Regions from separate parts of the Homo sapiens genome. Here regions 1, 2 and 4 are each linked to region 3. Evidence: fine-mapped expression QTL. A gene starts in region 3. Each other region holds a variant in brackets. All regions are shown on one strand. Distances are between the middles of the regions. Region 1 overlaps PDCD6 (programmed cell death 6). Region 2 holds the start of AHRR (aryl hydrocarbon receptor repressor). Region 3 holds the start of SDHA (succinate dehydrogenase complex flavoprotein subunit A). Region 4 holds the start of LRRC14B (leucine rich repeat containing 14B).

The links.
Region 1: its variant is fine-mapped to the expression of SDHA in whole blood (INTERVAL, PIP 0.98).
Region 2: its variant is fine-mapped to the expression of SDHA in whole blood (TOPMed, PIP 0.93).
Region 4: its variant is fine-mapped to the expression of SDHA in whole blood (INTERVAL, PIP above 0.99).

The regions. Positions count from the first base shown.
Region 1 is chr5:291,853-299,952 of GRCh38, reverse strand. The region is part of intron 2 of PDCD6 (programmed cell death 6); the gene reads right to left. All of the region lies in intron 2 of PDCD6-AHRR (PDCD6-AHRR readthrough (NMD candidate)), which reads right to left. Among named protein-coding and RNA genes, the nearest start is that of PDCD6-AHRR, 24 kb to the right of the region's middle. RefSeq lists enhancers at 2,417-2,945, 2,946-3,474 and a silencer at 4,776-4,946. The variant C/A (reference allele first, on the strand shown) is at 5,026.
Region 2 is chr5:321,270-329,369 of GRCh38, reverse strand. It overlaps AHRR (aryl hydrocarbon receptor repressor), which reads right to left and starts at 7,656. Exons shown (of 11, transcript NM_001377236.1): 1 at 7,551-7,656. The region is part of intron 3 of PDCD6-AHRR (PDCD6-AHRR readthrough (NMD candidate)); the gene reads right to left. RefSeq lists enhancers at 6,645-6,764, 6,853-7,420 and silencers at 7,005-7,064, 7,075-7,454, 7,545-8,034. The variant T/C (reference allele first, on the strand shown) is at 4,626.
Region 3 is chr5:214,011-222,110 of GRCh38, reverse strand. It overlaps SDHA (succinate dehydrogenase complex flavoprotein subunit A), which reads right to left and starts at 3,791. Exons shown (of 15, transcript NM_004168.4): 1 at 3,693-3,791. The coding sequence starts at 3,755. It overlaps CCDC127 (coiled-coil domain containing 127), which reads left to right and starts at 3,958. Exons shown (of 3, transcript NM_145265.3): 1 at 3,958-4,018; 2 at 5,252-5,382. The coding sequence starts at 5,262. RefSeq lists silencers at 3,181-3,420, 3,651-3,980 and an enhancer at 2,973-3,781.
Region 4 is chr5:187,208-195,298 of GRCh38, reverse strand. It overlaps PLEKHG4B (pleckstrin homology and RhoGEF domain containing G4B), which reads right to left. Exons shown (of 20, transcript NM_052909.5): 20 at 5,333-8,091. It overlaps LRRC14B (leucine rich repeat containing 14B), which reads right to left and starts at 3,804. Exons shown (of 2, transcript NM_001080478.3): 1 at 2,862-3,804; 2 at 1-591. The coding sequence starts at 3,760. LOC124900929 (a long non-coding RNA gene) reads left to right here and starts at 572. Exons shown (of 2, transcript XR_007058670.1): 1 at 572-937; 2 at 2,311-2,571. RefSeq lists enhancers at 4,090-4,139, 6,205-6,344, 6,391-6,685, 6,645-6,824. The variant ACG/G (reference allele first, on the strand shown) is at 4,953.

The DNA.
Region 1 (8,100 bases), 78 kb before region 3:
GCACTGTACTGCTTCTGAGGTCTGATTTTTCTCAGTTCTCTTTAATATGTGATCTCCAAGAGAGCCTCAACTGTATTTGATAAAAAAATAAAAAAAAAAATACCAGCTGGGCGCGGTGGCTGGCGCCTGTAATCCCAGCACTTTGGGAGGCCAAGGCGGGCGGATCACCAGGTGAGGAGATCGAGACCATCCTGGCTAATATGGTGAAACCCCATCTCTACTAAAAATACAAAAAATTAGCCAGGCATGGCGGCGTGTGCCTGTAGTCCCAGCTACTCGGGGGGCTGAGGCAGGAGAATGGCGTGAACCCGGGAGGTGGAGCTTGCAGTGAGCTGAGATTGCACCACTGGACTCCAGCCTGGGCGACAAAGTGAGACTCTGTCTTAAAGAAAAAAAAAAAACCTTCAAAAGAACGTAAGAATTATTTCTTAAAAGTACAGCTTCAGAAGCACAGAGACTTGAAAAAAGTTAATTTCTTATAATTCCAAGATGTTTTGGGAACGAGAGATCAGCACAGAAATTGGGCTAGGAGGATAATGGATGAAACCGATGGGCTGATCACGGTTCCAGCATGGTCTCGCCAGGGAGGTGACGGGGTTTGAGTGCTGCAGTGCAGGACTGGGGATGCCACAGGAACGGGTGCCCCAGGTAGGGCGTCATCCAGGAAGGATGAGAAACCTGAGAACAGCTGGGGGGGAACAGCTGGGGGGGAGCAGCGGAGGGGGAACAGCTGGGGGGAGCAGCTGGGGGGAACAGCTTGTGGGGAGCAACTGGGTGAGAACAGCTGGGGGGAGCAGTTGGGGGGGAGCAGCTGGGTGAGAGCAGCTGGGGGGGAGCAGCTGGGGGGGAGCAGCTGGGGGGGAGCAGCTGGGTGAGAACAGCTGGGGGGGAGCAGCTGGGGGGAGCAGCTGGGGGGAGCGGCTGGGGGGGAGCAGCTGGGGAGGAGCAGCTAGTGGGGAGCAGCTGGGTGGGAGTAGCTGGGGGGAGCAGCTAGTGGGGAGCAGCTGGGTGGGAGTAGCTGAGGGGGAGCAGCTGGGGGGAACAGCTGGGTGAGAGCAGCTGGGTGAGAACAGCTGAGTGGGAGCAGCTGGGGGAGCAGCTGGGGGGAGCAGCTGCGGGGGAGCAGCTGGGGGGGAGCAGCTAGGGGGGAGCAGCTGGGGGAGCAGCTGGGGGGGAGCAGCTGGGGGGGAGCAGTTGGGGGTGAGCAGCTGGGGGGAGCAGCTGGGTGGGAGCAGCTGGGTGGGAGCAGCTGAGTGGGAGCAGCTGAGTGGGAGCAGCTGAGTGGGAGCAGCTGAGTGGGAGCAGCTGGGGGGAGCAGCTGGGTGGGGGCAGGGTCCGCTGGCTGCACGGGGGTGGTGAGAGGAGCCCTTGAGGGCCTGAGAGCAGCGAGGCCGGGAGGAACCCTAATCCCTCATCTGCACATGACATGGGGCCTGCCGGAGCCCCACAGAGCTTGGAACGGAGCTGGGGAGGAGAGTTTGCCAGGCCTCCCGTCCCCTCCTTCTTCCCACTGGGATTGCTCTGCAGGAAGAAGAACCCATCATGTCCTTGTAAATGTGCTGGGGAGAGAACCCCTGACAGTGCCTGGTGCTCACTCCTGGGGAGCCACTGTCTCGGGTGGTCCTGGTACCGTGAAGTTTCTGGGCTCAGGTCCATGGCACCTGGAAAATGTGTTTAAGTGAAATGATCTTCAAAGCCCAAGAGGAAATGTTCCAGGCACCCCTCAGAGACCCCATGAGGCAGGAAGGACAGTGGGGCTATGGGGGCCCCCAGCTTCTCCAGCTCGACCCGTGCCTGGGAATTACCCCTGAAATCATGAGCAGAGCTGGATGCTGGGTCAGTTCTGTGTGCCTGGAAATTACTCCCTGATATCGATAGCAGAGCTGGACGCTGTGGTCTGTGGGACTCTACCCTTAATGGCTTCATTTATTTACGTGGATCTAACCTTATATTTATCTATGTAAAGAAATAAATTTGTCATTTGTTAGATTCACCTGTGCTTGAGATCTCTTTTTAAGAATATTTTCCTAGCCATTAAAGAACATAAGTCGATTTTCTTTTTTCATTTCCCTATTGCTATGTGACAAAAGGTCATATTCTATACTTTTTGTATTAAAGGACTTCAAATTACTGATACTTTGGATGACTTCTAAAGTCTTTGCCATATTCTGAATGAAGAATGTGAGCCCCAGGTTAAAAAGATCAACAATTAAATCACAGGGTGTGTGTTCACCAGGAGGCCTGGTGTCATTTTCTTGTGGGCCGTTTGCGATTGGCTGAGAGGGAAGATCTCGTGCTGTGTTCTCACCACGGGCACAGGTGCAAGGAAGCCCCCAGCAAGTGTGGAATTCCTCGATTGCTTTGATTTGGTGATGGTTTCATGGGTGTTTGCTCAGGTCAAGTCTCACCAAAGTGCACACATGAAATGTGTGCAGCTCTTTGTGTAGCAATTATACCTCAAAAAAGCTGAAACACTTTTACACTTGAAATAATCGAAGTGACATTTTAATCTAAAGGTATACAAATCTATCGCCTACATGGCTGATTTTTCCATGAGAGTCTCATTTACAAGAGAAACACAATTATGAAATCCGTACCCTTTACTTTTTAAGGGTAACGGAAGAAGCATAAGTTTCTGCTAGGACAGCGCTTACGCTCTCCCCCATGTTTATTCCGTGGTTAACCACATGGTAGATCCACAGTGATTCAGGAAGATGAATTATCTGCAACACGCAGAAGTTCAGTCCTCTGGCATGTACGAATCCTGGTGTGGTTTTTGCACAACATTCTGCCTGGGATGCGTGGGGAGAAGCTGTGATAACAGGATCGGGATTCATTCATGCTTCATTCATCTGGGAGGCCTGCGACTGCCCGGCACAGTGTGGGCTGAGCCTCCAGCGCCGAGCACCAGACACTCCACCCTCCTGAGGCACTTGTGCGGATGCAGGTGAGATGCCCAGACCAGCACGGTGTGCGTGGGGGGTCGGGCACCAGAGAACTTGAGATGAGATTCAACTGTGTGGATGGGTCTGGTGGAGGTGGTGGCTCCCGGGCTGGGGAGGCATAAAGACGAATCCCGGTGACCCTTGCCCTGAAAAGCTGCTATGTACATTTAGTAGAAGACTGTCGATGAAAACAGACTCTCAGAAGCAAAGAGGGGCCTCGACGGGCCCCCCCACCCATGTGCAATGCCAGTCTTACTCTCTCCACCCTCGAAGGGAGCGTCCTCCTCACCTTTCTGGTCCACCTTCCCTTGCCTTGCCTGCAATTATCCACTGAATTCCTGCAGCCCCAAACAGTCTTTTTGATGTGGACTACTTTGAGCTCGACATAAATCAATTAATTAGCAGCGTGTGTTTTTGCTGCTTCATCCACTCACACACTATCTGAGACCCATTCATGTCTCTGGGGGTCCCTCACTCGCCTTGCACTGGCTGACTCCACTGAGGGACTTGCTGGGATGTCCTCATCCACCTGCAGTGAACGAGCATTTGGATCTCTTCCCACTTAGGTCTGTGCAAACAGTGACACCAGGTGCATCTGAAATATGCCACGTGCCCAGGTGCACGTGGGGCGTGAACAGCTCCCTGACCCCTCTGTGGCGAGAGAGCAGAGGCCCAGGGTGAAGTGGGGAGGTGTGGGTGTGGGGCCAGGCTGGGGTGGGGGAGAGGACACTGGATTCTGGGCCTTATCTGAGGGTCGAGCAGCAGGTGTCGTGGCCGATCAGATCTGGTGTTGAACTGGCCTGATTGTCCCAGAGAATTGATGTTCATGGTTTCTCTGAATAACATAGAAATGGATCCTTTTGGTCTTAAAACTTGAGAAAGTGACATTTGTCTTATTTGAGTTCCTTTCTTAGGAAACTGACCATCAGGCCTCCCAGGTAGTGTGAAGGAAGAGAGACTCACCAGATCACGCCATCTGGACAGTAAGACGCCAAACCCCTCACCCATCATGAGTGCCTGACCAGCCACCTGCCTCCTCCTGACCAACTCCTCTTCCTCACTCTCCCTAATTCCTGTTTTCCTTACACACAGTCACACTTCTTCCCTGCTATATAGTCAGTCAGGAAGATGGATTTGAAGCTGACCTCCCATCTCCTGGCCTGTAGCTTCTGATGCATGCCTTCTTCATTGGCAGTAACTATCGTCTTAGTGATTGGCTTTCTGTGTGGAGAGCAGCGGGATCTGGAACAAACCCCTGCATTCCGGGAACAGGGAGAGCAGCCTCAGCAGGCCCCGGGCCCTGAGTGCGGTCATGACCACCAGGGACCACCCACCGAAGGTGAATGTGGACAAGAAAAAAAAGGCTCCTGAGGACCCAGCCAGAATTCCTGCAACATCACGGAGAATCATGGCCACCCGGCCCATGCCCCCTTGAAGGGCAGCTGCAAGATTCATCTCATTTGTCTTTCTTTCCTGGACATCTTCAAATTTCCTTCACCACAACCTTGTGATCCTGAGATTCCATCAATATGTGCATTGTTTTACTATATTGCTTTAATTTACTCTGCCGGTTATCTGGAGAAATGCAACCTCATCAGCAGAAATTATTTCCACCCTGCCGCTTTTTAAATGTTATTTCCTATAGCCAGGTACTGAGCCCTTCAATGGAGGTCTAAACCCTCCACTCTCTCCCTCTGGGATTGCCAAGCCTGTGGTTTCAGTTCCATGCTCCCAGGTAGATGATGTCAACTCAAAGTCCAATACGCTTATGAAATACTTTTTGTGGTTTTTTTATTTTAAGAGTTTTTTTTAATATGTTTTTGTTTCATGGAGGTGACACCCTCTGTCTTTGACTTGTGGCAGCCTTCCTCCTTCAGTCTGCGTGTACTGAAGCTAGTGTTTGCTGTACAGCCCCTCAGCCGCAGCAGCCCACAGTGAGGTGCAGGTGCTCACGCCACCGCCCCAGAGAGCTCCTCCATTCGCCCCTCCACCCGTAGCCCCTCGAAACCACTGCCCTGCTCCCCAACACGGTAGCACTGTCTTCTCCAAGATGTCACGTGGCGGCATCCCTCGGCCTGTG[C/A]GCACCGAAACTAGCTTCCTTCACTGGGCATGTGGCCTGGGAGACCTGGGGCATTTGGGTGCATCCTTCCACTGCTGGTTGGTGCCCCCTGTGTGGAAGCATCCGCGTTGGTTCCCGCCTCCTCCTGCCGATGGACATTTTGTTTTCTTCCAGTTATTGGCAATGAGGAATGAGGCCTAAACACTTGTGTGCAGGTTTGTGCATGCACGTTTAAGTTTTCTCTTGGGGGACGTTTCAGGAGCGGGGTTGCTGGATGACAGGGTAAGGATGTGCTTAACTTCGTAAGAAACTCCCGGACCACTTTCCAGCATGGCGGGACCCCTCCCATTCCCACTGCAGCTTATGAGGGTCCCAGTTCCTCTGCATCATCACTAGAACCTGGGTCGGCCTGTGGTTTTTGTCTGTTTTTAGCCATTTTAATAGATTTGCAGAGGTACTGTTGACTGGCATTTCTCCAGCATCTCTACGACGTTGAGCCTCTTTCTCGGGCAATATGCCCTCCTTATACCTTCTTTGATGAGGCCTCTGTTCCAATATCTGCCCTCTCTTTAATACTGGGGCTTTTACTTTCTTATGGTTAAGTTTTGATGGTTCTTCACATATCCTGCGTGCCAGTACGTTGTGAGACGTGTGATTCACAAATGTTTATTTCTAGACCATGGTTTGTGTTTCATTCTCTTTAGATTTTTATATTGCTTTATAGCATTATAATTTTAAATTTATGACAATTTAATTTGTCAATCTTTTATGAATCATGCTTTTGGTGTCATGTCTAAGAACTTTTCGCCCAACCCCAGGCCATACAAATTTTCCTGTGTTTTTATCTAAGGGTTTTATAGCGTTATGTTCTCCATTTAGGCCTGTGATAAATGTTGAGTAACATTTTGTGTCAGCCATGGCCATACCTTTCTCCGTCTCTGACAGTATCGCGGGCGTTTGCAGCTCCCAGTGCCTCGTGCTGTTCCCGTCTTCTTGATCTGCTCTTCCTGTCATACCTTTCTCCGTCTCTGACAGTATCGCGGGCGTTTGCAGCTCCCAGTGCCTCGTGCTGTTCCCGTCTTCTTGATCTGCTCTTCCTGTCATACCTTTCTCCGTCTCTGACAGTATCGCGGGCGTTTGCAGCTCCCAGTGCCTCGTGCTGTTCCCGTCTTCTTGATCTGCTCTTCCTGTCATACCTTTCTCCGTCTCTGACAGTATCGCGGGCGTTTGCAGCTCCCAGTGCCTCGTGCTGTTCCCGTCTTCTTGATCTGCTCTTCCTGTCATACCTTTCTCCGTCTCTGACAGTATCGCGGGCGTTTGCAGCTCCCAGTGCCTCGTGCTGTTCCCGTCTTCTTGATCTGCTCTTCCTGTCATACCTTTCTCCGTCTCTGACAGTATCGCGGGCGTTTGCAGCTCCCAGTGCCTCGTGCTGTTCCCGTCTTCTTGATCTGCTCTTCCTGTCATACCTTTCTCCATCTCTGACAGTATCGCGGGCGTTTGCAGCTCCCAGTGCCTCGTGCTGTTCCCGTCTTCTTGATCTGCTCTTCCTGTCATACCTTTCTCCATCTCTGACATTATCGCAGGCGTTTGCAGCTCCCAGTGCCTCGTGCTGTTCCCGTCTTCTTGATCTGCTCTTCCTGTCATACCTTTCTCCATCTCTGACAGTATCGTGGGTGTTTGCAGCTCCCAGTGCCCTGTGCTGTTCCCGTCTTCTTGATCAGGTCTTCCTGTGAGTTTCAGGGCATGTCTTAGTGCTGGCGCTGTCCTGGTCCATCAGGGGGTCCTGTGGGCTTGTCCATATGGGAAAGTCGGGACTGTGATGTTGACGGGATGCCCTGTGAGTCAGGGGGAGGTGCTGATGGGGGTTTCCATGTAGGAGAGAGAGGTGTTTGGTTTTCCGGATGGTGCAGACTTGAGAGGGGACAAACTTGAGAAATGCCACCAATGAGAAGCCCAGGCAGAGCAGGTCTTGGGGCCGCCCAGCTGTGTGGGAGCCAAACGTGGATGTGTCAGTGGCCACGCCAGGAGGTAAACCCTCAACCAAGGGCCTCTAGGTGTCCAAGGCCAAGTCTTGTTCAAGAGGTGCGTTCAGCTGAGCCAACCATGGCAGAAATGCATAAGGGAGATCCCATGGTTCCTCTGTTTAAATCCTCTGCTAATCCCCACCCGACTCAGAGACGGAGCCAAGTCCTCACAGCAGCCTGCCACCCCTGCCTGACTCGGCCTCCTCTCGGCTCTGTTCTCCATACCCTTCTATCCCTCTCTGTCTCTTCTCCCACCAGAGAGGAGATCCTGCACATTTATCCTGGTGGATTCAAACCCATCTTTGCCATACAGATAGTCACCGGAATGAACAGGTATAAAGAGTCCTTTTGAAAAAGAAAAAGGCAGGCCAGGCATGGTGGCTCATGCCTGTAATCCCAGCACTTTGGGAGGCTGAGGTGGGAGAATCACCTGAGGTCAGGAGTTTCAGACCAGTCTGGACAACATGGTGAAACCCCATCTCTAGTAAAAATACAAAAATTAGCCAGGGGTGGTGGCGGGCGCCTGTAATCCCAGCTACTTGGGAGGCTGAGGCAGGAGAATCACTTGAACCCAGAAGGTGGAGGTTGCAGTGAGCTGAGATCACACCACTGCATTCCAGCCTGGGCAACAGAGTGAGACTCTGTCTCAAAAACATAACAATAGGAATAATAAAAGAAAAGTGCAAAAATTCAAACAACTTAACAGAAACTGGGGAAAAGAGCTGAACTGGCCCTCCACAGAAGAGGAAATGTGGAGGAATGGCTAATGAAAACATGAAGAGGGGCTCAGCCTAACAGTGGGAGATATCACGTGACACCCACCAGATGGGCAAAAATCCCACCACCAACAACCCAATCCATGCCAGTGTTGGGGAGAATGGAGAGAAGCAGGAACACCACGCCCTGCTAAGAACGGTTGTGAAGTCTATTTTTGTTATGCTTGTATATGAAAGAGTATGTTGTGGGTTATGAGGAAAGTTACATTTCTTACCTGGGATGAAATTTTAAAACTTGAAAGCTACTGACCAGAAGCAACTTGCACTTGTGTACAAAAGAAACGCCCAAGAACGTT
Region 2 (8,100 bases), 110 kb before region 3:
TAAAATTAGTCAGGCATGGTGGCACACACCCATAGTCCAGTTACTCAGGAGGCAGAGGCCAGACAATCTCTTGGGCCCAGGAATTCGAGGTTGCAGTGAGCTATGCGCCAATGCACTCTAGCCTGGGTGACAAAGCAAGATCCCATCTCGAAGCAAAAAAGAGAGAAGAAGGAGGAGGAGAAGAAAAGAGAAAAAGAAAAATAATCCTAAAATTCATAAGGACCAAAAAAGACAGAGGTGTGTGTGTCAGCGCAGGAAAAACTACCATTTATCAAACCATCAGATCTTATGAGAATTCACTCACTGTCATGAGAACAGCATGGAGGAAACTGCCCCCATAATCCAATCACTTCCCACCAGGTCTCTCCCTAAACACCTGAGGATTATAATTCAGGATGAGATTTGGGTGGGGACACAAAACCTAACCATATCACTACATGATTTCAAATTACACCACAGACTATAGTATGGGTCTTAAACTAAAAACCTTCTGCACAGCAAAAGAAATAATAAACAGAGTGACAATATAACCTGTTAAACGGGAGAAAATATTTGCAAACTATTCATCCAACAGGGGAGTAGTAACCAGAATATACGAGGAACTCAAACAATTGAACGATGGCAACAACAAAAAAACCCAAGTGATCCCATTAAAAAGTAAGCAAAGGACATGAATAGACAGTTTTTAAAAGAAGAGATACAAATGGCCAACAGGTATATGAAAAAATACCCCACATCACTAATCATCAGAGAAATGCAAAATAAAACAACAATGAGATATCATCTTACACCAGTCAGAATGGCTATTATTAAAAAGACGGCCAGGTGCAGTGGCTCATGCCTGTAATCCCAGAACTTTGGGAGGCCGAGGTGGGTGGATCACTTGAGGTCAGGGGTTGGAGACCAGCCTGACCAACATGGTGAAACTGCATCTCTACTAGAAATACAAAAATTAGCTGGCATGGTGATGGGTGCCTCTGAGGCTGAGGCAGGAGAATTGCTTGAACCCAGGAGGCAGAGGTTGCAGTGAGCTGAGATTGCACCACTGCACTCCAGCCTGGGCGACAGAGGGAGACTCTGTCTCAAAAAAAAAAAAAAAAAAAAAAAAAAAAAATCAGATGTTGGTGAGGATGCAGAGAAAAGGGAACTCATACACTATTGGCGGGAATGTAAACTAGTACAGCCTCTATGGAAAACAGCATGGAGATTTCTCAAAGAATCAAAAATAGAACTGCCACAGCCATCAAAAATGATGAGTTCATGTCCTTTGTAGGGACATGGATGAAACTGGAAACCATCATTCTCAGCAAACTATCACAAGGACAAAAAAACAAACACCGCATGTTCTCACTCATAGGTGGGAATTGAACAATGAGAACGCATGGACACAGGGAGGGGAACATCACACTCTGGGGACTGTTGTAGGGTAGGGGGAGCGGGGAGGGATAGCATTAGGAGATATACCTAATGCTAAATGACGAGTTAATGGGTGCAGCACACCAACATGGCACATGTATACATATGTAACAAACCTGCACGTTGTGCACATGTACCCTAGAACTTAAAGTATAGTAATAATAAAATAAAATAAAATAAAATAGAACTGCTATTTAATCCAGCAGTCCCACTACTAGGTCTATACCCAATGGAAAAGAAATCAATATATCAAAAAGACGCCTGCACTCATATGTTTATTGCAGCACTATTCACAATCGCAAAGAGATGGAATAAACCTAAGTTCCCATCAGTGGATTAATCAAAAGAAAATGTGGTATATATACACAATTGAATATTATTCAGCCATAAAAAAAGAATGAAATCATGTCTTTTGCAGCAACATGGATGGAACTGGAGGTCATTAAGCGAAACAAGCCAGGCACAGAAAGTCAAATGTCACGTGTTCTCACTCACAAGTAGGTGCTGAATTTGTATACACACGGACGTAGTGAGTGGAATGATGGATGACAGAGACCTGGAAGGGTGAGGGGGTGACAAGGGCCCGGCTGATGAGATTTTAGTTAAGGAGTACAATGTACATTATTTGGGTAATGGGCGCCCTAAAAACTTTGACTTGATCACTATGCAATCTATGCATGTAACAAAATTACACATGAACCCATAAATGTGTACAATTTAAAAAATGGGCAAAGGACTTGAGGAGACATTTCTCCAAAGAAGATACACAATGTTCAACGCATGAAAACATGCTCAGCCCTGTAAATCATTAGGGAAATGCAAGTAAACAAAAATCCATAATTCAATACCATTTATACGACTAGGATGGCTTCTTGTTGCTGTTGCCGTTGTTGTTGAGACAGAGTCTCGCTCTGTTGCCATGGCTGGAGTGCAATGGCTCAATCTCAGCTCACTGCAACCTCCACCTCCTGGGTTCAAGAGATTCTCCTGCCTCAGCCTCCTGAGTAGCTGGGACTACAGGCGCGTGCCACCACGCCTGGCTAATTTTTGTATTTTTGGTAGAGATGGGGTTTCACCATATTGGTCAGGCTGGTCTCGAACTCCCGACCTCAAGTGATCCGCCTGCCTCAGCCTCCCAAAGTGCAGGGATTACAGGCGTGAACCATGCGCCGGGCCAGCTATCATTTTTTTTAATGGAACATAACAAGGGTCAGTGGGGCTATGGAGAAATTGGAACTGTTTCTGGTGCATTGCTGGTGAAAATGTAAAATGGTGCACCTGCTGTGGAAAAGTGTGGTGTTTCCTCAAAAAGTTAAACACAGAATCACTATATGATCCAGTAACTCCACTCCTAGGTACACACCTAACAGAAGTAAAAGCATTTGTTCTAACAGAAACCTGCATACAAATGCCCATCATAATTCACAGTAGCCAAAAAATGTAAACAACCTAAATGTCCATCAGCTGAGGGATCAGTAAACAGAATGTGGTATCTTCATAAGATGAAATATTATTCAGCCATGAAAAGGAAGGAAGCCCTGGCACGTGCTGCCACATGGATGGACCCTAAAAACGCTGTGATGCGTGAAAGAAGCTGGACACAGAAGGACACACACTGACCCCATTGCATGATATATCCTGAGTAGGCAAACTCAGATAAAAAGGTTCGTGGTGGCCAGGACCTGGGAGCAGGGACTGGGGAGTGACTGCCTGGTGGGTGAGCACTGCCGGAGGCGATGAAGAGGTTTTGGAGCTAGAGAGAGGCAGTGGCTGCACAACTTCGTCAATGTACTAAATGCCCCTGAACTGTTCACTTTTAAATGGTTAGTTTGATGTTATGTGCATTTTGCCTCAACGAGAAAATACAAAGAGGCCGGCCGCAGTGGCTCACGCCTGTAATCCCAGCACTTAGGGAGGCTGAGGCAGGGGAATCGCCTGAGGTCAGGAGTTCAAGACCAGCCTGGCCAACATGGCGAAACCCCGTCTCTACTAAAAATACAAAAATTAGCCAGGCGTGGTGGCTGGTGCCTGTAATCCCAGCTACTCGGGAGGCTAAGGCAGGAGAATCGCTTGAACCCAGGAGGTGGAGGTAGAAGTAAGCCAAGATCACGCCACTGCACTCCAGCCTGGGCAACAAGAGCTGGACTCCATCTCAAAAAAAGAAAAGAAAGAAAACAAGAAACAAAAAACAAACACCATGTAACACATAGGACACAAATTTACAAATAAATATAAGCAAAATATGTGGAATGTTAAGAAAGAAAGCAAATGGCAGATTGGAGCAGGGACAGATGCCGGTGGGTGGGTGGAGGTGGTGCGGAGGGTGGGACGGATGCTTCGGAAGGGTCCAGCCCTCCCCCCGAGGTGCTGTGGGATGCCCAGCCTCGTCTCCATCATGGTCACGTGTCTGGCCCAGTGCACTTCTCCCAGAAACCAGGTTGGGCACTTGGTGGCTGGAGGCCAGCCTGCAAGGACATCCCATCAGAACTGCAAGGCCTTTCGACTCAAACAGGAAACTCCCAAGCCGCACCCAAGCCTGGCCCCAGTCTGGTGGGGAGAACAGGCCAGAGACGGTTCCCAGCACCCCAAGGTGGGCCGGGCATAGAGCAAACCCACTCGACCACCCCTTGAGGTCAAGGAAGGTAAAGGGGATAGGGTGACCTACACCAGCCCCAGAAGACCCTGAGCCCAGGCACCACCAGCCTGACCAACCCTCGTCCCCAAATGAGTGCAGAGCCACAGGGCAAGAGCGGGTCGGGGGGTGGTGGGACAGCTGGGAAGATGAAGCGGGGCAGGGGATGTTGTCAGAGGTGGGGCTAGTGCAGATCCTTCTTGTCCCCAAAATCCCAAACTCCCTTCCGAGTAGCCGGAATTGAGACGGAAGCCTCGTTGCCCTCCTCAGCCTCACATACCAGTGACTACTCGCCCTGCAACGCCTGGGCAAAGCCACGTTCTCCCAGGTGTCTCCAGCTCAGTGCTGTGGAACGGTTCTAAAATCAAGGGTTCTGGTAAAAATCACCAGAAGCAGATAAATATTCCCTGTGGGCGGTGTGGGGGAGGGGCCCCGAGGAAATCCAAGGAGCTGGCCTGCCTACCCCCTCCCCACAGCCAGTGCCCCCTGAATAACCAGTTTTGGGTTTTTCGTTTTTTGTTTTTGTTTTTTTGAGACGGAGTTTCACTCTTGTTGCCCAGGCTGGAGTGCAATGGTG[T/C]GACTTTGGCTCACCACAACCTCCACCTCCCAGGTTCAAGCAATTCTCCTGCCTCAGCCTCTCGAGTAGCTGGGATTACAGGCATAGGCCACCACACCCGGCTAATTTTTGTATTTTTTTAAGTAAAGACAGGATTTCTCCATGTTGGTCAGGCTGGTCTCGAACTCCCGACCTCAGGTGATCCACCCGCCTCAGCCTCCCAAGGTGCTGGGATTATAGGTGTGAGCCACCACACCTGGCCCAGTTTCAGGTTTTGCTTGTGCCTCAGTTCTTTTTTTTTTTAATTTTTTTATATAAATGAATATATTTTTATTAAAAAAAAAATTCCAAGTGGAAGCACCTTTGGCTATAACTCATCGCATTGAAACAGCTAGGCGGCTGGGCGTGGTGGCTCATGTCTGTAATCCCAGCACTTTGGGAGGCCGAGGTGGGGAGAGCATGACGTCAGGAGTTCGAGACCAGCCTGGCCAACATTTAGTAGAGACAGTGAAACCCTGTCTCTACCAAAAATACAAAAATTAGCCAAGTGTGGTGGCTCACACCTGTAGTCCCAGCTACTTGGGAGGCTGAGGCAGGAGAATTGCTTGAACCTGGGAGGCAGAGGTTGCAGTGAGCCAAGAAAGCGCCATTGCACTCCAGCCTGGGTGACAGAACAAGACTCTGTCTCGAAAGAAAAGGAAAGAAAGAGAGAGAGAGAGAAAGAGAGACAGAGAGAGAGAGAGAAAGAAAGAAAGAAAGAGAAAAAAAGAAAGGAAGGTAGGAAGGAAGGAGGGAAGGAAGAGCGAGCTAGGCAAGGTGTTTCAGGGCCGCCAAGTCTTTCCTACCCGAGTCATCAGCCCCTAGCAGATCGGCCTGTTCATTCCTGCCTGTCTGTGAGCCGACTCTCCTCCGCAAGGAGCTCCGTTGAGTCTCCTTCAATGCCTGATCACCCCAGACCACATGGCGCTTTCCCGCTTCTGTGTCGTATTAACCACTTAACACTGGTCAGGGCCACCCGGCGGCATCTCTCCAACTGCATTGCAAATGACGACGGCTGGAACCACAGCTGCCTCCCCCTCCCCCGGCGTCTCAGCACCCAGCACGGGTGAACGAGGTGGGAAGACCCTGTTAAGCCACAAGCCGTCTCCCTCTGATCACAAGGCCTGCTCCCGGGAACACCAGGCCACATGAAGGAGGGGCCTCACAGTTGCAGGAAATAAATAATTTGGCACAAGGATCAAGATAAAGTAGTTTGAGAAACAGTTGCTGATAATACTTTAGAGAAAAGCCTCGCGGAGTTCAGGTGGTCACCTGAGCATATCTGAACTTCCTGGCCCTACTGGCAGAGATGCGAGGGGGTGGCAGGGAAGTGTGTCTCAGTTCTTGCCATACCTAGCCTAAATACAGGAGGAGGGATGCTATTACAATAGGTTGTTCCATTTTACAAAATACTCATGAACTCACCTCAACAGATGGAGCCTCCTTTGGACTGGACCAAACTCCCCACAGAAATGCCCCTGTGAGGCAAGACTCAGCTGTCCCCGGCCTCCTGACGGCAGCGTTCTTCTCTGCCTGGGACACAGGTCGAAGCTGCCTCATAGGTAATTGGGGGACAGGGGAGGACCCTACCCACTGCAGCCAGGGGCTCAGCCGGGGACCACGGGTGGGGCCTCGACAGACTCCTGGGTGCTGCTCACGGGCAGGTCCCACACGGGACAGAGGGGTCGGCCAGGGCCATCTGGGGCCTCCCAACCCCACCAGGCTGTGAGCTGACAGCACTCCTCTGAGAAATCTGAATTTTTCTAAGAACCTTTCTCCCGTGGTAAAACTCGTGTCTGTTCATTTTAGAGAATACAGATAAGTAAGAAAACGAAAATAAAAGCCGTTCCCCAGGCGGTGGCGTCCCCCCCGTCGAAGCGGCTCCCCAGGCGGCGGCGTCCGCCGGGTCAGCATCCTACGTTCTCCAGTTCTTGTTACTCGTGGCTTTTCAGCGACTCTGGGGCCGCATCGAGCCCCGGCTTTGTGCGGGATGGGTATGGCACACTCGGCCCGAGTCCAAACGCCGCCAGTCACTTGCTCTGAGAGGCTGGATGAGCGACCTACCTTGATGTCCTCGTTCGTAAAATGGGTGACGGTTGCCAGGCCGGGGCGGCTGTGAGGCCCCGTGGGGGTGGCGTTTGGAGAACGCGCGCACACGCCCACCCTTCTGCAAGAACCCCGCAGACGAGAGCCTGTGCGCGCGCACAGGAGGCCCAGGGAGGAAGCCCCTCCCCGCCTGCCCTTGCCATCCCGGAGGCCACAGCCGGACAGGCCCGTGGGACAGGCCCGTGGGACGCTTCTGCACAAGGTCTCTGACCTCCGGCCTCGCAGAAGAGGTCAGAGGGTGGCCCCTGCCTGTCACGCGCCCATGGCGACCCCTCCCCAGAAGGGGTCCCAGCGTGGACTCCAGGCGCCACATCGCTCTCTCAGGGCATCCGGTCTGGGAATTCTGGCCGCTCAAAATAAGACTTCAGCGCTACTGGGTGCTACTGAAACCAAGCCTGAACATGGGCCTTTCCCGGGGGTGAGGCCCCCCGGACCTGGCGCCCTCGGCCCGACAGCGGGGCCCCGCTCCGCCGCCCGCACCCGCCCAGCCCCAGGGAGCGCGGCCCGCACGGAACGCCCGGGGAGTGAAGGCTCAGAACACTCTCGAGGGGACGCTGAGGACCACGAACCGTGGACGCGCCGCGGCTTCCCTCCGAGGTCCGAGTTTTAAGTGAGACCAGCCAGCCGCACCCCAGAGTGTCCGCCCCGTCCCGGGGCCGCCGGGCCTGGCGACGCGAGGATGCGGCGTGAGGAGGGTCCCGACGCCGGCGCCCGTCCCTCAGCCCCACACCCGGGAGCGCATCCCGTCTCCACCGCGGGCGGCACGCGGCGGGGGCCTGCGGGGGCGCCCAGGACACTTACCCAGGGCCTGCGGGGCGCGGAGGCTCAGGCACACCCGCGGGGCAGCGCGCCCTGGCCAGGAGCTGTGGCGGCGGGTGCCGGCGCTCGCATCCCGGGAACCCGCGGCGGCTCCAGGGACTGCCCCACCCCGGCACGCGAGCCGCCCGCCCCGCCCCGCAGCATCCAGGGCCGGGAGGCGGCAGAGGGCGCCCGCGGGTCCGGCTGTCTCGGGTCCGGCTGCCCCAGCTGCCCTGGCGAACCGGAGACGCCATCCGGTTCCCCTGGGGTCCGCCCTGCGCCCTTCGCGTCCCAGTGATCCCCCGGAGTCTCCGTGCCCCGAGGCGGGGGTCGCGCGCTGAGCCCCTCCAGGCCCTGCGTTCCCCCTGGGGTCTGTGTGCGCCCAGGGTCCCCCGGTTCTCCCTGCGCCCCCGTCCCCTCCCCAGCGCTCGCGGCCGGCTGTGCTGAGCTGCCGGCCCTAGAGCCGGGCGGTGTAGACCCGAACAGGTAAAGTGAGGAGAGCGTGTGCCCCCTCGCCTGCCCCATGAGGTCGTTTCGAAAATGTAAAAGGAGT
Region 3 (8,100 bases):
CATGGTAAAATCATATTTTAAGAAAGAAGTCTTTGAAATAATTTTAATACAAATGTTCTTGAAAATGTTGTAAAGTGCCCTATTAACATAGTAATAGCACCAGTAAGAACAGTATATTATACCAAATGTAAGTAGAAACAGTGAGATCACTCAATGTTTATTCGTTCTTTCTAGGATGTTGATGTGGAAGACCCACTGCCCACCCCCCACCACACACACACAGAGCTGGCTTAAAAGGGGCAGCTACTATAACACAATCTTGAACAAATTATCACGCCATCCCCCTGGCGAAAAGGACACTAACCCTCTCAATCTAAATCTAATCTGGGGCAGATTTTTGAATTTGGAAAGCCCAACTTTAAGCCAATTTCAGTCTTTAGATAAAACTCAAAACTAGTTTTGACACAAAACTAGTCTTTTGTGCCAATTGTTAATTTTTTTAGGAGAAACTATCAAACATTTCCTCAAGAAAAAAAATGGGGAACATATAACTAAAAGGAATACTTAGACCTTGCTTAACAATACAGAATTTCAGATGACTGAATTAGGAGGTGGAGGGGAAAAGTAAGAAGTGCAGAGACATTCATATCCGAAATCTAGCAAAGTAAGGGGTCCTCATCTAATACAACGCACCTATAAATCACGAGCAAGAAACTAATCTGCATGTACAACCTACACAATCACAAAAGCAGCCAACGAAGAACCTAAAAACGCACGACTGTATCAGGAAGAAGCGGAAGCAGGGTAGTTTAAGTGAACTAAATCCCCTCTCTAGGCAAGAAGTCTAAAACTGATAAAAATGCACCTGCATATCCGCTAAAGAAACAGAGGTATTACAAATGCCAGGAGTCAGTATCAGAAACAGGAATTGCTTTCATGGAAAATGAACTGGGTGAGGGAGGGTATACTCATTGATTCTTTTACAACTGCGTGTAATTATTCTCACTAGAATTTTAGTGTTTATTATTTTAAAAACAGGGATACTTAAAATACAGTTCGGCCGGGCGTGGTGGCTCACACCTGTAATCCCAGCCCTTTGGGAGACCGAGGCGGGCGGATCACGAGGTCAGGAGATGGAGACCATTCTGGCTAACATGGTGAAACCCCGTCTCTACTAAAAACACAAAAAAATTAGCCGGGCATGATGGCAGGTGCCTGTAGTCCCAGCTACTCAGGAGGCTGAGGCAGGAGAATGGCGTGAACTCGGGAGGCAGAGCTTGCAGTGAGCCGAGATTGCGCCACTGCACTCCAGCCTGGGTGACAGAGTGAGACTCTGTCTCAAAAAAAAAAAAAAATTCAGTTCACACATGGTTACTGTGCATAGGCTGTGAGCCCTGGTTCTCAAGAGCATCACCAAAGGTTTCAAACATTACCCACAGAATCCTCACTAACCCCACGGAAAGACGGAGCTCAGAGAGGATTCAAGTCGGCCGGCCTGGCTCTGGATCCTGGACTTGCCCCCCTATCTAAAGACCCTTGGGAAAAATCTCTGAGACTCCCAACTAATATTAATATCCAGGTTTCATATCAAAAAACAAGTCACAATTTTTCAAATAAATCAGGAAAAACATCATGAGGAATGCAGAATGGAATGCCATTGTTGTTACAATTATCCCAAGAAGCAAAGCAAAGGTTTACTACTATAATGGCCTAAATAATGTATTTCTAGAACACCATTAAACATATTCAGAACAATCCATTCAAAGAAAAGAAATCAATTTGTCCTAGAACAATATATTGGATGTTCATGTTAAGGGATTTGAAAAACTTCACCTGAAGTAAGCAGTTAACCAGTAACTATTGAAGTTTCTTGGTTTTCTTTTTCCTCTGATTAAACTGCTTTCGAACAGTTTGCAAGCTGTGTCAGTGCACTGGGCCATAAAAAGAAACCAAAAGCAAAATAAGTCTGATAAGTTCGTCACTTGAAAGCAGTTGTAAATACAGAATGATCAAAACACCACAGAACTGGCCAAAATGAGGTTAAAAAATTCTCTCTGGACTTTACTGAAATTATCCTCAGCATCTATTTTCCAAACACATTTCTCAGTTGGCTATCACGAATTTCTTTCTTTTTTCTGCTAATTTTTTGATTATGCTGTTCCTTCGTAAACTCCAATTCTTCAGGAAAAAAAGCCTATCTGAAATGCCGATAAATATGCTGCTTGCAGGCAGAATTTCTGTAGGAAAAGCTAACTTCATCAAGATAAAAAGACTTTTACAAAACCCAAGACTAAATTTTGGTTCAATTTTGCTATCTTGCCATCCCGTCTGAGGTGCCTCCGCCGCTGGCAGGGTCTTAGTCTGCAGAAGGAACACCGGGCACCATCTGGGTTGAGGACAAAGGCACTAGCTCTAGCTTTTCTCCAATCACAAGCTACCATTTCCCCTAAAAAGCCCCACTGACCATGGGCTTTCCTTCCTGCTTGTGGACGCCCTCCTAGCAGCTCTTAAAAGCCCAAGATGCGGCAGGGGTCTCTGCTCAGTCAGTACCAACCACAGCAACACACTAGAACGGTTTACACGCTTTCTGATGTTGGCAGGATGGCTGTATGACTAATCCTCACATTTAACTCAACGAGATTTTTAATAAGTATTTCAAAAAGGAGAAAATTGCACAATTACAGGCATAATTCAAATCAATATTGCTGAATGCCTTGGTTCCTATTGAGATTTTTATTCTGCAATTTAAAATTACTTTGTAATTAAGGAGGTGGGTGGGTAAGTTCATTTAAAAGAACCAAACAACTAAACCTATCCAATTTAGCTTGATTAAATAAAACCCTAGAAGGCCGATTCTTAAGATGCAATCGTAGAGGGCACATTCAGACACTCAGAGAGCAAGGGCTCAGGGAAGTATAACCCTGACCACCATCCTGGACTAAGCCGAGCCCGGCCCTAGAGGCACTCAGCGCACAGGCAAGCACAGGTCCCGGCGTCCTCGCCCGGTCAGTGCGCTGAGCTCTCCGCCTGAGTTTTAAAAACTGGCACAGCTGCTTTTAAACACTGGCACATTTTTGGTGGCATAAGGACCACCAAACACGACCCAAAGTAGAAGCCCTTAACTTACAAGGTCTCGAAGTGGACATGGACAGATTTGCGCTTTCTGGAAAGGCGAACTGCAAGCCTAAGCTCGGGCGCGCCACGCTTCCCACCGGACGCCCACCGGGCCGAGCCCGGCCACTCCTCGCACCCACCCGGGCGGTCTCACCCGCCCCGCCGGCCCCACCCACGGGCTGCGGGCTGCTCCTCAGGACAACCCGCACAGAGGGCGGCAGAGGCCCAGCCCAGCCAGGGCGGCCACCGGCCGCTATCCGCCCGGGTGACCTTGGGCAGACACGACTCCTCCCCGAGTCCACCTGCCAGGCACTGAGGCGAGGGGCTACCTCAGCCCGCGGGGTCCCAGGACCCCAGGCCCGGACCAAGGCGGCGGAGGGGACGCCCAGCAAGCCCGCGGGGTTGTGACCTTCACCCGGACGCGGACTATCTACTAAGGACCGAGCTCCCCGGGTCCCCGAGTCCGCCCCGCGGCTTCCCCTCGCACCGGCCCAGGGCTCTCTCAGCCCCTTCCCGATCCCGGGACAGAGGGCGCAGGGACCCGGCGCCCGCTCCGCTCGGACCCGCTGGGGACCGTCCCGCTCCTACCGCCGCCTCGGCCCCCGCCTGCCCCGCCCCGGTCCGCGGCACGGACTCACCGCCTTGGCCAGCGCCAGGCGCCGAGCGCTCAGCAGCCGCGACAGGCCCCGGACCCCCGACATGTCTGCTGTTGCCGCCGCGCAGTCCCGCCAGTCCCTGCGCAGACTGCGCCTGCGCACCACACCGGGGTCGAGCTGGCGGGGGAGGGGGGATACCGCGCCTGCGCACCACGCCGGAGTCGAGCGGGGCTGCAGTGGGGGACATCGCGCCTGCGCACCATGCCACGCCCGGAGCGGGTACTGAGTGGGGGCGCCGCGCCTGCGCAAAGCGGACCCGCGGACGGTGGCGTTAAGGGAACGCTGAGGTCCCGCGCTCCCCGACCGAGGTAGAGCGGGCCCTGTTCCGGGGAGGTGGTGGGCACCAACATTTTTAAAGCCCCGTGGGTGGTTCTCCGGGATCGCCCAGACCGAAGGGCCTGAACGCCCAGACCGCAGGGAATGGGGTCGGAGGGGGGCGCTCGTCCGCGGAGGTGGGCGGGAGCGGCCCGGGGCCTCCGACCTCTTGTTTATTATACATCCCTTGATTAACTAAACTATTTTGTAATTGTGTGTGTTTGTGGAGGTCACATGTAAACAAACTTAAAGTGACTCTACTTTGTGAAAATGTGAAACTTCGTGTAGGTACTCAGTAAATCAGTAAATTCTTACTAACGTTAGCCCCCAGCCTAGCTATGGAGGGTGCATGCTGAGCCCGAAGCAGAGAACTCTGTAATCTCTGCATTCATCACCACCACGAGGAGGCCTCAGAAGCTTCTAGCACTGTTTGCACCTTCCCCACATCACCCCTCCCTGCCTTCCTCACAGTCTTCCTTCTGATCAGAAGACCCTTTCCTTCTTTCTCTGCCTGTCAAAATGCTGCTCACTCTTCAAACCCTAGCTCATATGAAAGTGTCCGGTGTGAGCCCACTTTTATCGAGTTGATTCTGTATCTTTGATACAACTGTATGAGGGTTCTCCAGAGACACAACAAATAGAAGGGAGACGTGAGGAATTGGTTTAAAGGTTCAATTGCTAATCTCATCCAAAAACACCCTTACAGACACGCCCAGAAATAATGCTTAACCATGTATCTGAGCACCTCATGATGCCGTCAAGTTGACAAACAAAATTAACCATCGCAGCAGCCATACATTTAAACATATTTGTACCAGAGAACTTACCTGATTCTACCTGCACTTCAGATGCTTAAGACATGTCTGTTTTCTCCACTTTCCCCAACCAGATTGTGAGTCGCTTTCATCTTAAGTTCTTGTTTTTTTTTTCCTTTTTCTTTTTCTTTTTTTTTGGGGGGGACGGAGTCTCGTTCTGTCACCAGGCTGGAGTGCAGTGGCGCGACCTCGACTCACTGCAACCTCCACCTCCCAGGTTCAAGCGATTCTCCTGCCTCAGCCTCCCGAGTAGCTGGGACTACAGGTGCCCGCCACCATGCCCGGCTCTGGTCTAGTTTTTTTCTTCTTTGAATCCCGTAGGGCCTCAGTGCTGTGCAGCAAGCACATAGTTAAAACTGAAGAAAAATTTCTTGAATAAAAGTAGTTAACGTTTTTATTCTTTACTTCAAGGTATATCTCCATGAATAACCTAAATGATCCCCCAAATTGGAATATCCGGCCTAATTCCAGGGCGGATGGTGGTGATGGAAGCAGGTGGAATTATGCCCTGTTGGTTCCAATGCTGGGATTGGCTGCTTTTCGTAAGTCATGGTTTTCTTAAAATTCGTGTTTTCCAGGCTGAGAGTGTGGAGCCCCGGTGAGGGAGGCAGCATGGTGTGGGAGCCTGAAGGCCGTGACTTTGGGACCTGCCAGGGACAGCCGAGTTTTATCCCCTGCAGTGAACCGTGGGCAAATCACTTAAGCTCTGAGCCTCAGTCTTCCTGTTCACAGGAGATGGATAATCATACTTAACCTCAGCACACTGCAAGGATTAAGTCAGCCAAGGCGTTTAGAAGCATTTTGTGTGGGGTGGGTTTTAATAACTTAGTTCCCTCTGAAGGCTTTGCTGCTCTCAAGTCGGGGAGGAGGTTCCTTATTTCAGGTGCCCTCATAAGGACTGCTGGGGAACAAAACGGGTGTAAAGGAAACCAGTGGGCTGGGCGTGGTGGCTCATACCTGTAACCCCAGCACTCTGCGAGGCCCAGGTGGGCAGATCGAGTGACCAGCCTGAGCAACACAGCAAAACCCCGTCTCTACAAAAAAATACAAAAATTAGCAAGTCGTGACGGTGCACACCTGTAGTCCCAGCTACTCAGGAGGCTGAGGTGGGAAGATCAGTGGAGCCTGGGAGGTCGAGGCTGCAGTGAGTGGAGATGGCACCACTTGCCCTCCAGCCCGAGCAACAGGGTTAAAAAAAAAAAAAAAGAAAACCAGTTTTGGAAAACCAGTGATGTTTAATGTTTAGGAAATCAGTCTTTGGGAGACTTCATCCATGAAATCTCTGCTTGGCCTGGCCAGAAAAATTCTCTCTAGTTTAGATTGACTTGGCACCACTTTGGGGACCTGCCGGTCATATGCAGACTTACATCCCCACCACACAATCAATTCACTGATGCAGAGGAGTGAGTTTTGTGTTTCTTCACATTCCATGGTTCTGGGCTGGCACTTAGGAACATGAGAAACTGAATAATTGAATGGAAGAAAGGCAAAACTGCCCTCTAGTTGTAGCGATACATTTTGTGTAGTGGCTTTTTATCTGCTTCCATGTCTCAGGTCAGAAGTTTTGCTGTAGAGGAAGAGGAGGCTGGTAAGAGCAGGTGGTTTTTATGATTCAGTGATCTGCGCAGTGCTTGCTTCTTGGTGAAAGACAGGGCAGGTCCACATCCAATCCTAAGGGGCTGCCATGTAAAAAGCTCATCCGCCTGCAGGCTTGGGAAAAAAAACCCTTAACACTTGGAGAGGCTACTGTTGCCTGTGGCTAGGGTGAGTGGATTGGAAGGCTTAAAATTACTCTGACTAATGTAATAATTAATTGGCTTTGAGGCTGGGAGAGGCCCTGAAGTGACTCATTTTCCATTTGTTTTTCAGACTCATCTCCAGCTTTTATAGCCTTTCATGATAACTTTCACTTTTGAAATTCTTACCTTCCCTTCTTGGACTTTTGAAATGATGCTTTCTGTCCCTGAAAAGGGTTGAAGAATATTTTTTTCTTCCTGGTTTTTTGCTGAGGTAGTGTGGTCAGAGAGAACTGTTAAGTTGGTGTTCTTGTAAGGATTCTCCAAAGGTGTGTTACGATGTGTTTGAGGTTCTGTTGCACATAGGAGCGTTAACCAGCCCCTAGTGTAGTCTAGAAGAAGAGGCAGACATATGAATACTTGATAAGCGCTATTGGTTGATTTATTGATGAGAGGCTAGTTTTGTCCTGATCACTCGCTTCATTTACTAGAATTTTTTTTTTTTTTCGAGACGGAGTCTTGCCCTGTCGCCAGGCTGGAGTGCAGTGGCGCGATCTCGGCTTGCTGCAACCTCTGACTCCCTGGTTCTAGTGATTCTCCTGCCTCAGCCTCCCGAGTAGCTGGGATTACAGGCGCCCCTCACCACGTCCAGCTAATTTTTGTATTTTTAGTAGAGACGGGGTTTCACCACATTGGCCAGGATGGTCTCGATCTCCTGACCTCATGATCTGCCCGCCTCGGCCTCCCAAAGTGCTGGGGTTACAGGTGTGAGCCACCGTGCCCAGCCCATTTACTAGATTTTTACTTAACATAACATAGAAATGTGTGTAATTGTGCTTGCCCGAAAGAGCAGTCCCTGGAGAAATTCTTACCCTGAGTAGCTCCCAGGGGAGAATATTCAGTATTTCAGCACTCCAGAGGGCTTCTCTCTCTTCACACCTCCTCTGTCATTCTGCTTCCCCCCTTTTCTCTCAGTCTTCTTGATTGCCCTTTCCCCATCTCTCTCTCCGTGCTTTTCCCATCTCTCCGTGCTTTCTCCCCTCTAGTGTTCCTGTACCTCCTGTTTCCTCCCCTGACCCAGAAAACATAGTTTTAGAGCTGAAAGGGACTGGTTGAGTTCACTGGGCCCAACTCAGTTTCTTTTAATTAAATATTTTATTTTGGGGTCATGTAAATCACATGCAGTTGTCATCAGTAATGCAGAGAGCCCGTGTACCCTCTACCCAGCTTTCCCCAGTGGAAGCATCTGCAAAACGATAGTGCAGTGTCACAGCCAAGACATCTGCCAGGATGCGGTCAAGATACCCCAATCCCTGGGGCCTCACGTGCTGCCCTGTGTACCGCCCCTCCCTCCATAGCCCCCGGCAGCTACTGATCTGTTCTTCATCTCCAGAACTTTGTCATTTCAAGAATGTTATGTAAATGGAATCAAACAGTATATAACCTTTCGGGTTGACTTTTTTCATTCAGCATAACCCCCTGAGGTCCATGCAGATTGTTGCTGTATCAGTAGTTCATAGATAG
Region 4 (8,091 bases), 27 kb after region 3:
TGCAGCAAGAAAGCACCAAGCTCATTGCTTGTTTCTTGAATGTCTGGGTCAAAACTTCCAAAGAGAGGTGTGGAGACTTGGATGTCCTCTCGGTCAGCCCGCAGCAGCACGGCACGCAGCTCCTCGGCGATCTCGTCGTATTTCTGCTGGTTGAACTTGGACATGGCCAGCTCGTCCTGTGGGTAGGCGGCACCCTCGGGGTAGCAGTCCTTGGGCACCGGGAACTCAATGCAGCGCAGCTCGGGGAGCTCACAGAGTGCGGTGAAGAGGCGCCGGAGGGCGCGGGCCGACAGCGGGTTCCCGAGGAACTTGAGCTGGCGCAGCCGGTGGCAGGGGCTCAGGCCCAGGATCAGCATGCCAACGTGGCTGTCTACGATGCCACACTCCTCCAGTGTCAGGATCCTCAGCGTCCGGGAAGCCTGGCTGAGCAGCCTGAAGAAGGTCGAGGGGTACAGGCTGACCAGGTTGTGTCCACTGAGGTCCAGCACCTCCAGGTGGGCAGCGTGGGCACAGTCTGCCAAGAAGGCCATGTCCGTGTGGTTCAGGGCACAGTTGGCCAGGTCCAGTACTCGCAGCGGGGTCTGTAGGGGGCTGCAGGACACGGGGGAAAGAGCACAGGTGAGAGGAGGGTCCCAGGAAGGAGCCGAGGGCTCAGGCGAATGGGAACAACCCATTTGTCCATCATGGGGTCAACACACAGTCACGTCCAACCACCGCCTAATTTCATACAGCCTATGAGCTAGGAGTGGTTGTTATATTTATATAATAGTTTGTGAAACGTGAAAAGTTACATGATATTCAAACTCGGTGTCCATAAATAACATTTTACCAGAGCACAACCACGTGCATTCGCTTAGTGTTGGCCATGACTGCCGGCCGCCACGTGGTGAAGTCAGCTATACCCAGAGGTCTGGCTTTTGTCCTCAGCACCTAAATGGTAAGTTTGTTTTGTCAACAGCTGCTTTTGTGTTGTCTGAGAAAAGTGATGCATGTGACCACGAGAACGTCCACTCAGAAAGTGGACGGGGTGGGGCAGTGAGACCACAGGACAGAATGTCAGCTCAGAAAGCAGACGGCGGGGGGCAGTGAGACCACAGGACAGAATGTCTGCTCAGAAAGCAGACGGCGGGGGGCAGTGAGACCACAGGACAGTGCCGCTCCACTCTGACAAAGATGAATCCCGCATGGTTTCAGAGCTGGGAAGGGCCATGGAGGCTTCCAGTACAGCCTTTGACTCACCTGGGAACCCTAAAGACCCCCCAACTTGCCCCACATCCCATATTCTGACTTGGTTGGTGTAGGGCAGCCTAGCTCTAATACAGGGGCAGTTGGAGTGAGACCTACTCTGGTTCTGAGCTAAGGGAGATCTCCAGAGCAGAACTGCATCGGGACATGGCCTCACTGTCCTCGCTGAGCCGGGGGACACAGCTGGGGTCTGCCCCATCCCAACCCTCTCCTTAGGAGGCTGCCTCACTCTTCACCCACCTGCACCTGCACCCACCTGCATGTCCCGCCCAGGACATGTCCCTCCCCACCCAGGACTGGGACCACTGCCAGGTGCCCCTGTCCCACCTGAGAAACCACGCCAGGCATGCCCCCTGCCCAAGGTCCCACCGCAGGGCACCTCTATCCCTCAGGACCCACCGCAGGGCACCCCCATCCTTCAGGACCCACCGCCAGGCATCCCCCACCAGGATCTACTGCCTGGTGCCACCCCAGGACCCACAGCCAGCCACCCCCCACCCCAGGACTCACCACCAGGTGCCCCCACTTCAGGACCCACCACCAGGCACCCCTACCACCGCCAGGCACTTCTCCCCAAAACCCACTGCCAAACGCCCCACCAGGACCCACTGCCATGTGCCCCCAGCCCCCAGAACCCACCGCCAGGCACCCCCCAGCACCTGAGGACCCACCTCTAGGTGCTTCCCCAGTACCTACCAGGCACCCCTTCCCCCTAGACCCACTGCCAGGTCCCACCCCCAGGACCCAAAACTGGGTGCCCCCCGGACCCACCGCTAGGTTGCCCCACCAGGACCCATCACCCGGTGACCCCAATACCCACCGCCAGCTGCCCCTCCTTCAGGACCCACCACCAGGCTCCCTCCCAGCACCCATTGCCAGGCACCCCGTTCCCCAGGACCCATCACTGGGCACCCCCCTTGGACCCACCGCTAGGCACTCCCCCTCCAGGATCCACTGCTGGGCACCCCCCTTGGACCCACCGCCGGGCATCCCCCTCACCACTGCCTGAGGCTGCCTTGGCCTGGCCCCTTCCTAGCTGCTGCCCTCTCTGCCTCCTTCACGCAGATCTGCTGAGAGGATCCTGCATAAGCCTCCTGTCCCACCATGGGGAGGTCCATGCAGCATGGAGCCCAGGCCTCCCTCGAGGGAGACTGGGAGGATCCCGCCCTGTCAGGCCTTCGGATGAGATGGCACCCTTGGCCAACAGCAGCCCTGAGCCAAAGGCACCGACAGGCTCAGATTTCTGAGCTGAAATCGTGTTTGCTGTTTGAAGCCCCCAAGTGTTGGGGTGAGTCGTTCATCAACAATAGACAACTCCTCACACCACGTAGGCACTTCTGTTTCGTCTGTTTGGTAATTTCCGTATTCTCTTTTTTTAACTGGCATTCTCTCCACATCCCTAAGTCACACATGGCAGCCCGCTTCTTTCCTGGTGGCTCTGACTTTCGGTGCTCTTGCCCCTTGGCGGGGCCGCTGTCCTGTGGCTGTGGCCACACCCGGAGTGAGAGGCTGGAGGCCGTGTAGCCTCATGGCCTTGGACATGAGCAGGCCCCTGGACGATCTCTCCTTGCCTCTGCAGCCACCAGCCCGCCCTCAGTCCCCTCCCCAAGACTCACCCAAGCAGCGTCGGGATCTTCCCGGTCAGCGTGGAGAAGGCCACACTGAGCTCAGTGAGCTGCGCCATCTTGCTGAGCTCCCGGGCGATGGAGGCGAGGAGGGGGTCCTCGCCGTCGGGAGTGGAGGCGTAGGTGGGGGGTGCATCAAAGGCCTTGGTGGGCAGGGTGAGCGAGGCCAGCCGGGGGAAGCCCACCTGGGCCAGAAGCTGCTGCACGTGGCCCGCATGCAGCCGCACGTTGTGCACCACCTCCAGCTTGCGCAGGGCACCCGGGCCAGCCAGACGCAGCACGTGCAGGAGCTGGCTGGGGCTCAGGCTGTCCGCCCGGAACGAGGGGCAGTGCACCCGCAGAGGGGCCGGGCCCGCTGGCCTCAGAGCCTGCACCACCGCCTCGAAGTTGCCCTCAGTGACGAAGAGGTCGGCGAGGACCTCGACGGGGCGCCCGGCTGCGAGGGGCTCTGCCTGCAGCTCACAGCAGGTCCTGGCCAGCAGCTGGGTGCGGCCCCACCTGCCCAGCGCCCTCCCGCACGGGCACCGCTGCACCTGCACATCTCGGATGCCCGTGAGGTCAGCCACCCGCAGCCGCCGGCGGCTCCGGTCCTGCAGCACGTGGTCCGCGAGGCCGCGCACCAGCGCCTCCAGGCAGGCCCTGCAGGTTCTGTCGCGCAGGTCCTGGGGGTGGTCGGCACCAGGACCCAGCAGCGCTCCCAGCCGGAACTCCTCCAGGGGCCAGCGCCCCAGCACCGCGCGCGTCACCTCCGCCTGCTCCAGCAGGTAGCTGGCTTTGAACAGGAGTGGGTAGAGGTTGTGGGCCACGCTGTCCAGGCTCTGCCGGGCCACCTGGGGGTGGGACACCAGAGCTTCTGCAGAAATGAAGCGGAGTGACCTCATTGTGTCCATGGCCCGAGACAGGACCGCTCCCCACGACTTTCCCCAAGGCGTGTGCCCTTCACGCCTATCTTTAGCTGCAGCAGCTGTGAGCAGCCTGCCCTGGGGGCCCTGCCACGGGGCCTTATGATCATCTGACTGCTATTTTGGTCCTGGGACACCTGCGTCTGCCCGGCCTCGGGGCACGCAGCCGTTGGGAGCTGCTTGGCTCAGGCACCCAGCCGTTGGGAGCTGCTTGGCTCAGGCACCCAGCCGTTGGGAGCTGCTTGGCTCAGGCACCCAGCCGACACAGAAAGGCAGCCCGTGCCCATGGCAGGGCTGGGCAGAGAAGCCTGTGCTCCATGCTGCAGAAAGCCAGTCTTGGCAGGCGTTCGTGCTGGCGGCCGGTGAGGCCAGCGGGCAGGTCCTGTTTACCATCCAAGCGGGGCTACTGCCCAGCTCTGGGCACCTCCCCCACCAGTCAACGGGGCAGAGAACAGGCCAGGCCCCTGCGCCTCACTCGGTAACCAGTTCCCTTTCCACAGTGGCCTCTGGGGCCGCTCCCACACTTCGCCTCGCATCTGGGGTGAGACGAGTGGCCAGGAATGGAGCTGCTGTTTTGCCCCTTCCCTGTGCCTTTCCTTCTCCCCAAGGACCCGGCGGGGGTGGCTTCCCTACTTTCCATGGGAGAGAGTGGCTGGGAGAGGTGGAGCCTCCCTGATGGCCTCGGATGAGCCCCCAGCTCTCTCTGAGCTGCAGTGTCCTGTCTGCAACCCTGCCGCCTGTGCGGCAGGGAAAGCTGCAGGGAATGGGATACACCTGTGTTGGGGGGCGGTGCCTGATGGTTCACTCCCAGCACTGACCGTGTTGGACAGCTGATGGGTGCTGCACTCACCTCTCCCCGTGACACTGCCACTCAGGGCAGGGTCAGCACACATCGCTGCACACATCACTGCACACATCACTACAGGGCACCACGTGTCCATGGGCTTTGGAGGGTCACGGCCATGAGACAGAGGCTGAGGGAGACTGAGAGAAGTGAGTGACGGAGACTGAGACAGAGACAGAGGGACAGAAACTAAGAGGGAGAGAGACAGAGACTGAGGGAGAGAGAAAGGGAAACAGAAAGAGACAGACTGAGAGAGAGACAGAAAGGGAGAGACAGAGACTAAGAGAGAGAGAGAGAGACTGGTAGGCAGAGACAGAGACTGAGAAAGACAGACAG[ACG/G]GGGAGACAGAAAGAGAAACAGCAGTGGGAGGGGGAAGGCTGCTGAGCAAGCTTGGAGGGTGCTGGTCATGGGTGCCCCACCAGCCTCCCTGTCTGACCCTCCCCAGTTTGTTCCCTGAGCCTGAGCAATGCCTCTCCCCGGGAGGCGACCCATGCAGAAGGGACTGTGCTCCGTTGTGGGGCCCAGGCACTGTCCAGCAGGCGGAGGTGTGTGTGAAGAGGTGGGTGGGCCCTGACCCCACCCTTCAGGGGTGGCCGCCCTCGGCCAGCCGATGTGGGCCCCCGGGCTCCCCTCATGAGGTGCACAAGAGGTTTCCCCAGACACACGGCCCCTTTCCAGGACCAGATAAGAGAATCTCGAAGGACACAGTAGAAAAACATGTTCCATTGGTTTTTATGATTAAAATTTTTAACAATTCAGTATTGATACAAAGTAAACACTTAACAACAGTGGCAGGTAACGCCATTTCCCAGACACCTTTTGGGTTCTGAAAAGTGGTTTCCAGAACCTTCCTTTACCTACTCGGGCTCTGTGTGGCCCAACACCCTGCTGTCACTGCGGGGCCCCTGGGTCTCGGAGGGTGGAGACCATGGCTAGGAAGGTCAGCCAAGGTCTGGGCCCCTGCAGCCTCCCTCTCGCTTACTGTTTTCCCTTCTTTTAGAGAGGGGTGGTCCTCTTGGGGTTCCCATTCCAGCAGGACCACTCAGCACAGGTTGGGTCAGACTCAGGCCCAGCTCTGGCGCCGCCGTCCCAACCTGGGGCCACGGCTCTGGGCTCCTTACAGGAAATGCCATGACAAACAGGCGTTCTTTCTCAGACCTAACTCAAGTGCTGTCCTGCTAACTACATGGGACCTGCTGAAACCGAAATGAACCGAGATTCCAGTTCTGTGCAGAGATGGCTGGACCTGCGTTGGGGACATGCCTGGACCACCCAGCCCACTGGCCTTCACTGGTCTGAAAGGTTGTGAGGTACACTGGTCCTAGGATGGCTCACCACGGCTCTGAGACACTGTGAGCCCGGCCATGGGCGGTGGACACGGGGTGAGGGGGTCTGGTGTTCCCACCCTGGGTCACCCCATGACCTTTGGAGGGCAGGAGGGTTCCAGGCTGCAGGAGCATGGGGGTCTGCAGCTGGCAGGCACTGCTGAGTCCCTGCTGGACCAGGGGTAGAGGAACCATCCAGGAGGAAAGCAAAAGAGGCCAGGCCTAGGGGGCAGGGCCCATTATGGGCGACTGCAGGCCCCGAACGGCAATGCTGACCATCGGTGTGCGCAGCCCCTGCCTGAGACCTTCATTTCCAGGCCCGTGCACAAGTCTGGCTCTCGAGGACTGGGGCACTCCCTGGAGGACCCACCTCCATCCCAGCTGTCAGAAGAAAAACTGCTGTTACTCACGTCGCACGGGCCTCTCCCTAGGACCCGCTGGCCCCTCAAAGCTGTGACAGCACAGACGTGGCCTGGCACCCAGCAAGGCCTCTGACACCTGATACACACGGTGGGGCCAGGCCGGATGGAGAGCATCGCTGAGCCTGCCTCTGGTTCCAAAGCTCGGGAGGCTCCTCTGCGAGGCCACCTTGTGGTGCAGAGTGGATCTGCAGCTTGAGGGGAGCTCCAGGTCCCAGCCAGACGGGGCGTGGACTCGGCGGCAGCTCCACCCAGCTGGTGTCATGGGCGTTCTGTGGGCAACAGGGTTTGGACCCTAAAAGTGCCGGTTCTGTCTGCTGCTCTGATCCGGAACAAGAGCGTCTGTCTCGTAGCAGCTACATGTGTGACACAAAAGCTCTCGTCATTTCACACGCGGTGTGGAAAACATTCTCTATGTCACAGGCACACAGAACCCACATTCACCTATCGTTTTGTAATTAAATCTTGGACCTACGCCCCAGGTGGTCAGTTCGGGCTCAGCCAAGGTGCTAATCCCCCAGGGATGGTGGGAGCAGCCTGGACCCTGGCCGTTTTCTTCTCCTGGGTCTCAGGGTGGGTCAGCATCTCCCTGCAGGGTCGGTCCTCTGTGAGCCCCCCCAGGACATCAGGCAGGTGTGAAAACTCTGACACAGCACGCAGTCTGGGAAGCATGAGTAACAAAGCCCCCACGTGGGTGACCTTGGGAGAGGCGTGTCCCCAGGATGGAGCCTTCTCTGAACGGGAGGCTGGAGCTTTCTCCTTATGGGGGCTGCTGAAGGCCCAGGGCAGGCACACCAGCGCCGCCAGCCCCAGGACCTCTGGTTGGCAGCAGAATCCGTCCTCTGGCAGTGGCCCTGAGGGCTCCTGTTTCCTGTGGTCAGAGCACCTGGCAGGGGGCTCCTGAGAGCAGGGCGGGGGCAAAGGGGGGCCAGGGATGCCTGGATCCTGGGGGAGCTGCTCCTGACAAAGGAATGCTCGAGGGAACCCGGGGAGGTGGGGTGGCCTCCTGCTGCCCTCTGACCTGACAGGCGGACCTCCTGGGAAGACGACCACCCTGGGGCCAAGGGTCCCCTGCCTCCATGTGACCCTGCCAGCCCTCTGGGTGCACTTGGTTACCAGGATGTTGAGGCTTGAGACCTTTGGGAGCTACAGGCGGGCCGGGGAGGGAGGCTGCCCAGCAGATGCTTGATGGGGGTGGGGCCAGGCGAGCTGTTGCTTCAGAAGCATCTAGAACAAGGCGGTGAGCTGGTCAGGCAGCCTGGTGGTGGCGGCAGGCCAGGCGATGTGAGCTCCCCTTGGCTACTTTAGGGTCAGCCAAGGAAAGGTCTTTCCTTATGTAAGGAGCATTTTGCCTGTCAGAAAACCAGCCTGAGGCCTGAGGCTTGGGGGTTTTGTTCTGACCACAGGGAAGAAACTGCTGGGTGGAATGGTGTTGGCATGAGGGGTCTGGGGACGTGGACTCTCCAGGGCGTGCCATGCTCCATCTAAGTCTCTCAGGTTCTTAGGGCTCCCTCAAAACCCAAACCTCCACTGCTGCTGCCATCCAGGAGGGGCCCGGGCATCTCCCCAGAACCGGGGATGGACGCAGGCCCAGCTAAGCCACAGCCCTCACGACACCTGGCAAAAGAAGAGGTCTCTCTGGAAGGTGATGGGGATGCGGCTCCCGTCTGATCAGCCTCTCCTGAGTCGCCTCCCTGCTGTCCTCAAGGGGATGACATCTGTACCTGCCCG